Regions from separate parts of the Homo sapiens genome. Here region 2 is linked to region 1. Evidence: fine-mapped expression QTL. A gene starts in region 1. The other region holds a variant in brackets. All regions are shown on one strand. Distances are from middle to middle.

Evidence for each region. PIP is the estimated chance that this variant, and not a neighbour inherited with it, causes the effect. A credible set is the group of variants that fine-mapping cannot tell apart.
Region 2: its variant is the best candidate, but not a certain one, in a credible set for the expression of ABHD2 in whole blood (INTERVAL, PIP 0.70).

Annotation. Positions count from the first base shown.
Region 1 is chr15:89,086,180-89,090,569 of GRCh38, reverse strand. It overlaps ABHD2 (abhydrolase domain containing 2, acylglycerol lipase), which reads right to left and starts at 2,114. Exons shown (of 11, transcript NM_152924.5): 1 at 2,007-2,114. LOC124903573 reads left to right here. Exons shown (of 7, transcript XM_047433432.1): 5 at 1,638-1,735; 6 at 1,884-2,502; 7 at 2,629-3,009. The coding sequence ends at 2,843. RefSeq lists enhancers at 1,455-1,974, 1,916-2,095, 2,706-3,351.
Region 2 is chr15:89,136,562-89,140,951 of GRCh38, reverse strand. The region is part of intron 3 of ABHD2 (abhydrolase domain containing 2, acylglycerol lipase); the gene reads right to left. It also overlaps the pseudogene HMGB1P8. Among named protein-coding and RNA genes, the nearest start is that of ABHD2, 50 kb to the right of the region's middle. RefSeq lists enhancers at 391-890, 891-1,392. The variant AG/G (reference allele first, on the strand shown) is at 2,097.

The DNA of each region.
Region 1 (4,390 bases):
AAATGCAACGTGACTTGGAAACCCCTTGCAGCTGTCTGTGTTAAAATGAAATCTGGAATATGTTAAATGAATTTGGGGGTGGGGGGAAGGGGACTGGGGGAAAAATTAGCTCTTGATAGAGTATTGGGTGGTGGATATGAAGAAAAATGTACAAAAAGGCAACAGAATATCATATCTAGCAAATCTATTGTGCTTACCCTGTGCCAGGTACTGTTCTAAATGCTTCAGATGTAGTAACTCCATGCACTTCTCAAAACAATCTTCTAACATAAGTATCATTATTATTTCTGTTTTAGAGGTGAGGAAACAGAGGCACAGAGAAGTTAAGTAGCTTGCCCAAGGTTGTACAGCCAGTAAGAGGCAGGGCTGGGATTCAAATCCAGGCACTCAGGCACCAAAATCTGTCCTCCTAACCTCTCTGGACTCCCCTAGAACTTAAAACACTGAGAATGGGCAAACTAAGCTTGGAGTGAAATAAGTCATGCACTGGCTAGATCTAAATACAGTCAAGAGATCAACCCTTAGTCATGGGCCTGTGATGACCAACCAGCCCTGTGACCACCCCAGGCCTCAGTTTCCTCACCTGTGCATTGAGGAGACTGAATGAGAGTCCACCTAATTAGACTTAGATAGAGATGAGCTCTATCTAAGGTGCCTTCAGCTCTAAAATGTCACAGTCCGTGCTGACTACCAGCTGTATATGGACTGCTTTCTGACTAGATGTTCAAAGATTAATTCATCCTAAAACACACAGCAAGGTGTGTTAAGATTCTTTCTCTGCCTCCTGACCTTTAGATTATTATGTTCTCTCTATTCCGGCAAATGACAGAGGGTAGTGAAGGATTTCTCTTTTGGACTCTGCTTAATGTGGCTGTAAGGAAACGGCCTTCGAAAAGCTCTGGGCACAGATCTTGTTGACTCTGCCAAACCTGCAGTCTCTCCAGGTCCCTCTGTGGAGCCTGTTCTTGGAACATGCCTTTGGATTTGGTTACTGGAATGCAGGTGAAACTGACAAACTGGAGGTCCAGCAACCAAAAAAGAGAGATTGGGAAGATTAAGAGAGCGGTCCATGGTAGTTCAAATACAAGGAGTTTCACAGTGGCTAAATAAACCTCTATCTTTTTGTATAATCCAGTCTCTTTGCTAACACCCACTCTTGAGAGCTGAAACCTCAAAATTCATTATGGGTGAATTCAACAGCCACTTGGAACCTAATGGACCCCCAGAAGTACTCTTCTCAAGCTAGGCATCAAAGGCCACTTAGAGTGCATTTGTGGGTAGAGAAGGCCCTTACAGATGGGTCATGCAGTCCTCCCTTGGGAGTCCTAAGCATCCGACACAGGTGGCTGTCATCAGGCCACTGCTTGGACATCGCCAAGGTCGAGGCGCTAGCTGCCCGGCCTGGCAGGCAGCCTCCTGCGCTGCTGGACAGCTCTAGCTGTGGGAAAAGCTCACGAAGGGCCTAGAACAGTGCCGGTCGCGGGGCCGAACTCGGTAAATGTGCTTCCAAGTGGGTCAAAAGCTGCCTTTCTAGAACTTAAACCCACTGGTCCTGCGTGAGCCCCTGGAGCCCCGAAACACAGAGGCCTCTCGGGTATCTCGGGCTGTAATCAGGCCCCTCGGCCCTCTCCTTCCAGGTGCGGATCCCGGACCTTCTTCGCCGAGCCTGAACCGGCAGACCCCTCCCCAGGCCCCTGAAGACCCAGGAGTGAGCACCAATGGGGGAAAGGCCGCGGTCGGGGTTGTCCCCAACCTCGGTTCCTCGGGCAGAAGGGGACAAAGGGCCTCAGGAAGGCGTATCCCCCGCCGCGATCTGGGCTGTCCCCACCACTGGGCAAGCCAGCCCCTGGGACCCCCACGGCGCCAGATGACAGGCCCCCCAGGATCCCCTCAGGCTGCGGCGTGATGGGCCGAGCTACGCCGGGGACCTCGGGGCTCGGAGATTCGGTTCGACGGGTCCGGGGTGCGATCCCCGCTCCGCGGAGCTCGCTCGGCCGTGGCTTTACCTGCGTGTGATTGACTACAGGTGCTCAGCTCGCCCCCAGTCTGGTTCCTGCAGCTCCCCGGCTGCCAGCGGCGCTCATGGATATACAGCCGGAACCCCTGGCCAGTGCAGCTCCCGCCGCTACCGGCCCCGCCCAAGTAACTGCCGCCACGCCCCTGACGACCGCTTCTGCCACGCCCCTAACCACGGAAACCGCTTGTTCATTGGGCAGTTCAGCCGCTTCTCCACTTGCCCCGCGCGCTCATTGCGTCTAGGAGGGGATCCATTGATCAGCGAAGCTGTTCCTCAGAGTGGAGGCGGGATTCTTAGGGGAGAGCTCCTCAGCAATTGGTTACATTTGACGGCTTTAGTCCAGGGACCCAGACGCTACTGGATAAGGCCAGCCCGGAGTGGGCGGGGAAAGGGGAGGAGGGCTAGAAGGTGGGTCGTGTTTGATGTCGATGGGGGCGGGGTGAAGAGACGGGTAATTGTGACCGCAAACTGCTTTAGAGGGCTGGGTAAGGTCAGCTGTCGACTGGGCTCAGAGGAATGAGGTCGGCTGGTAGCTCAGCTGCTGGTAGCTCAGCTGGGGCTCTTATGGGTCCAGGCCGACTGACTGACTCACGTGTACTCAAATTTCGCAGGGGTGAAATTTGAGGTCATATCCCGGGAGAGAGGAAGAAGGGTCGTGAGTCACCGAACCCGAAGGAGAGGAAAAGATGTGGAGGCAGCGGTCTATGGCCTCTTCCAGCTCCGGACGGGGGATGGGGACGCTCTGGGCAATACGGGCCTCAGTTATTGTCCCACTGTCCTTTCAACCCTTAACCAACCCAGTTGGAGGCCGCCTGGAAGAATGTAGCCTTGGAACTAGGGCCTGGAATTGGGGCTCCTACCGGTTGTGTGGGCTTGGGCAAGTCACTTAACCTTCCCGCATGCTCCCTTCACTTGGCAACTGAGGGTAACAATAGTAGTTGATGAGAAGATTAAATAAACTCTGATAAATGCCAACAGTGGCTGGCACTCAACAGGCATTCAATCAAGGCTGATTCTTCCCCCATCACCCACTCACCTCATCCGGCTGGGAAACTAGGCCCATTTCTAAAATTCTATGAGCCTGAAACTGCTTTTGCAATGGCATGTCGTGTACCAAGAATAGAACACTTGAGCGACTTGAAATGCAACCCCTGTAGGGCAGACAAGGCCACCCTACCAAGGCCCCATAGGGCTCGGAGAGAGGGAGCAGGGGATGAAATGAGAGGAGCGATTTAGTCAGAGAAGGGAAGTGGCATTTGTTACCATGTAAATTTTTCCCAACATATTTCAGGTTGTGACAAGGAACAGTGGGCTGGCTCAAGTTTTATGGAGCGTAACCAAATAACATCCTTTGAAGGCTGATCAGCACCGGACCAGAAATCATTGCATGAGCTCTATCTGTCAGAGACCCCTGAAACCCATTCCCCATTCTGAAGGTGTAGACATCACAGAGTGTGGACAGAAATAGCTTCTCAGGCCTGAATGTAGCCCCAGACCCTTTGTGTCTGTCTTTGAAAGAACTCACAGCCATGGTACATCAGAGTGAAGGAGAAGAAAGAATCCTTTGCCATTGCTCTATTTTTCATTCAGTTGTCATGTTACCTTGAAAAAAAAAGGTTTCATCTCAGTGTTTATATATTCCTCTGTATTCTCTTTCATCTTGGAAAAGAAAAACCCAGGCTTCAGTAGCAAAGTCTCTTAGTGATGAACCCCATCGTCCTGACTCTGAGTTAAAACAGTTTGGACTTCCAAAAAAGAGCTTTAGATTATCACTAGATAAGTATATAAGGTAATGCATATGTTAACTAGCTTGGTGTAGCTATCCCACAATGTATACATGTATCAAAACATGGACCGGTACAGTGGCTCACGCCTGTAATCCAACATTTTGGGAAGCTGAGGCGGAGCCCAGGAGTCTGAGACCAACCTGGGCAACATAGTGAGACCCCGTCTCTACAAAAAATTTAAAATTTAGCCTGATGTGGTGGTGCATGCCTGTAGTCCCAGCTAGTGGGGAGGCTGAGGCAGGAGGGTTGTTTGAGCCCAGGAAGTTGAGGCTGCAGTGAGCTGTGATCGCACCACTGCACTCCAGCCTGGGCCACAGAGTGAGACCTTGTTTGACAAATAAACATAATAACATGATAAACATAAATAAGTAAAGCATGTTGTACATCATAAATATATACAAATTTTGTCAATTAAAAATTAATAATAATTTAAAAAATAGGCTGGGCACAGTGGCTCAAGCCTGTAATCCCAGCACTTTGGGAGGCCAAGGCAGGAGGATCACCTGAGGTCAGCAGTTCCAGACCAGCCTGGCCATCATGGTGAAACCCCATCTCTACTAAAAATACAAAATTAGCTGGGCATGGT
Region 2 (4,390 bases), 50 kb before region 1:
TAATAAAGTTATGCCCTGAGCATCCCTTAGTAACACACTGTCTCTGGGCAAAGGGAGCCAGGCAGTTCTCCCTCAGTGCCACGAAGATGGCTGGGGCTGTGGATAAGCACAGATGGCACTGGTGGCTTGAGGTTAAGGCCATGTTGTGAAACAAAGGAAATGGAAAACAAAAACACATCTTTAAACGTGAAGATACAGTAAGGTGCTCTCTCTCGCAGGAGAGACACACAGGCCCTGGTACCAGCAGAGGTGACGTGAGGCTCCCAGATCACACACAGGGGGGGCCTGTGCTCCTTTGAATGGAGAAGCTGGCAGAAGGGTCAGCACAAATAAGGTGGTGTGTGTATGTGTGTGTCTGTGTGTGTGTGGGGGTCTCTCTCTCAATCTGTAGAGTTGAATTTGCATAAGTTAAATGTACATATGTAACTCCATTATATATTAGAAAGCATATCAAGATAATAGCTAACTATATTGTAACGTTAAAAAAAAAGAAGAAATTCATCTTTAATTTATCACCTGCCTAAATTCCAAAGCATCAGGTACAAGAAGGAATTTCAAGCACAGAGAAGTGTTTTTGCTGGATTCTGTTGGGCAAACACAGCCACCTCCAGTATTTGCCTGGAACTTACTCTAGAGGTTTATTTAAAAGGTCATCCAGCAAAATGAATGGCTATCTTCTCCAGGGCTTGTGACCATAAAATGTCAGGTCCACAGGTCTTTCAGTAGAGCTTGAGGAAAAGAACTGCTAACATAGCACGTGAGTGGAAGCCTCACAAGTCCACAGGCTCTGACTGTTCCTAACACAGGCTGCTCAGCTCTACACACCGGCTGTGTCACTTTACACTCTGCCCTCAGACTCCCCTCTCTTTCTGCAAAACCCAAGTCCAAAGGGACTCTTCAGCCACTGAGGCAAAACGCAGAGGTGTTACATCATCCTGGGAAGCCCTCCCAAGAAGAAAACTCTCTCCATCAGGGCTACAGAGACCTGCTGCGTGGCTGCTCCAGACAACTGCACACTCAAATGGCTGGTGATGTCCTCTGCTGGCTGCGTGCTGAAACTCCGGTCAGATTCTAGTTAGGTGCCAAGACTGTTAGGAGACATAGGCTCGGGATGTTTCCTCAGTTTCCAGAGAGAATGCCCATCTTCACAGGCCCTCCACTCTGCTTACTTGAGTGCACACACTCAAGGGAAGAAAAGCAAATTTTTCATTTCAGAAAAAAATATTTGTCCACTGAGAAAAAAAGGTGACCTTTACTCTGACAAACAGATTTGTTTTCAGAGTGACAACATGGACTGAGGATGCCCAACTAGGAGTGTGCTGCTGGCACCTGGGGCCAAACCAAAGATGTTATCAGGTCCGAACCTGCCTCTACCTATATTTTATTTTGGCTCTTATATATTGATTTAATAAAATTCAACAAATACGAGTGCTGTGAGGCATACAGAGATTAGAGCCGGACACAGTGACCGCCCTGGTGGCATTCGTAATCTGAAGGTAGGATGCATGATGAATACACAGGCAGCTACTGTCACAGACAGGAGCGGTGGGCAATGGGGTCAGAGAGATAGAATAGGATGATACTATGGGGAGACAATCATGAGGCTGAGAAGTACCAATTTCACTTAGTGCATCATGGGGAGTACCAAGATCTCAGAGAGGAGAGATATTTCTGAGCACCAAATCTCTCCATCAGGAGCTGGGTGAGTCATGTCTCTAGTTTATTTATTTACTTATTTTTAGAGACAAGGTCTTACTCTGTCACCCAGGCTGGAGTGCAGTGGTACAACTACGGCTCACTGCAGCTTTAACCTCCCATGCTCAAGCAATCCTCCCATCTCAGCCGCCTGAGTAGCTGGGACCACAGGCACATGCCACCATGCCCAGTTAATTTTTTTTTGTAGAGACAGGGTCTTGCTATGTCGCCAGGGCTGGTCTTGATCTCCCGGGCTCAAGCAATCCTCCCACCTCAGCCTCCCACAGTGCTGGAATTATAGAAGTGAGCCATCCTGCCCGGCCTTCTAGCTTAATCTTCACAATTCTGAGCAATGGTGTCTTCCCCGTTTTAAAAATGAGGAAAAAAAAAGAAAAAAAAAA[AG/G]CTAGGATTAGAGGACAGGTCTCTGATTCAGTCCAAAGCGTTCCTTACTTTATCACACTCAAGACTCATCAACTCCCCCAACCAGAAGTTAAAATAACAGCTTTGTGCCTATTTTCTCCTGTCTGATCAACTGTCAAAATGTTCTATATTAAATAATGTTTCTTCAAATTGAAAACTGAATTTGTTGGAGCTTCTCTACAGTGGTCTTCACAGGTCTTTGAAAAAAAACATTTCTTTCGTTTTGCATGTTTCTCACAACTGTAACTGACTTCTTGTTAGAGGAGTTTTTTTCTGCAGAAGATACATCTGGGGGCTAATTAATTTGAATATTCACATTTAATTATCTCTAAGATAAGGCCAGAATGTTAACAAAATCATACTGAATATCTCCCCAAAGATCCAGGAGAGCGATGACAGTGAGAGCAAGAGAGGATGGAAGTGCTTCTAGAAAGGTGACAGGTGTTTGATTTGGGGATACATTTTTACCCTACTTTCATGGGTGAGAATAAACCCAGGAGGACAAGCATCAGTGGTGGGGGAAACACTGGGAGTGAAGCTTTGTGGCAGCTCCACGAGTCTGCAAACTGAGTTCCAGGCCTTCCTGTGTGTGCACATGTGCATGTGCATGCATGTGTGTGCACACAGGAAAGGTAAGGAAGCCGGCAAGGGCCAGAGTTTAGGAGAACATTTTGTCAGTTCTTTTCCAGATCCTGAACTGCCAGAGCCTCCCTGCTCCACAGGCCTGGAAGCCAGGGCCCTTGCTGCTCCTACCACAGACACCTCTGGTTTCTTTTCTGGCCTATCTACCCCTAGCCTGGTGGACCTGAAGCCAGCAGGTCAACAGCAGGTCCTTCGTGAGCCCATCCCACTGGGCTTCACCCTTCTCCACTAGGACACAGCCCCCACTGGAAGCCCTTCTTTTCAGGAGGGCCAGATGTGGAGTAGACCCTGTGTGCACATCTCACCAGTCCTACTGGGGAGGTAAGGCTGAGGCTGGGAAAGGGCTTCCTCATTAGCTTCAGGAACAAACACCTTGGGCCTTTCATCTCAAAATGGCAGCAACATATTCAGCTTCCCAAACACCCATTAATAGGCTCATCAGAAATCCACTTTGAACACAGCATTTTCCCCTCACTGGAGGCAAATTCTTCTCCACAGCTGTCACACATTACATTTTCACTGTTGTTGCTAAATGCTCTATTCCTGAATTGCAGGATCTGCACAGGAAAATTCCAATGCAGAGACTGTTTCTGCCTGAAATGACCAAAAGTGGCCTGAGGAAACAAAAGAGCAATCCTCTTCCGTTCCCGAACTGGTTTCTAAATACAGGACGGAGGCCACTGGGCCAGGCTGGTACATCTGTGACCTTTGTGCATATCGTGCAAACTATAAAATATGAATGTTAGGAGAACAGCCCCATGAGTTACAATAAAACCACTTAAAAAGAAACTACTTTTTTGCTCCAAGGAAAAATAAATGTGCTTTTCTAAAGTTCAAAGAAAACCAGTTAAAACCCCTCAGAACTGTATCCACATGTTAAATGCATCTGATCCCACTATCTTCCTGTTCACAAACAGCACGCGGAACTGGTCACATCCTCCCTAGGCACACCAAAGCACAGTCCTCTCTCCTCACGTTGCATTTCAACCTGGTTTTGACACCATGCTTTAAGTAGGGAGGCAGTTTATTAAGAAGCTCCAGAGTTCCAGTCTCCAGGGTTCCACTGGAACCCTGGATCCGTTAGAGAACTGGTCCTGCAAACAGCCAGTCAAAGATTAGTGACCTAACTTTAGGAGAAGGCACCACTATTCCCAGACCTGGGCTGCCAAGGTGCTAAGTGCAAAGTTCCCAGACTCACTCTGTGCTAACCAAACAGGATGTACGCTGACGCTCAGAACACAGAGCACCCGTGTCTTGTCCCCATCTGCCTAGTCACCTCTCTCCTGAGGACATGCACATAGATGCCAATGGTCTGCTCTTTGTCCAACACAGTGCCTTTTGGCTACTTCCCAGGCCAAGGCTACCTCAAAATCTGTGCCAGCGTTATGGGGAGGGAAGATTAGAGCTGGAAAATCACATTATATTTGCCACTATTCCTAGTGGAGGAAAACTCAAATACCTAAATGTGAAGCCCCTGGATTACCTACACAGAATGCTCTTTTAAGAACACGCTAATCAACTAGGAGCTGCGCTGGCTGGAGAGCAATGTTATAGAGCGGAGAGAGTGAGGAGGCTGCACCTGGCTCCCGATATCACAGCCATTGCAGTACAATGAGCTCCATAGAGATAGCAC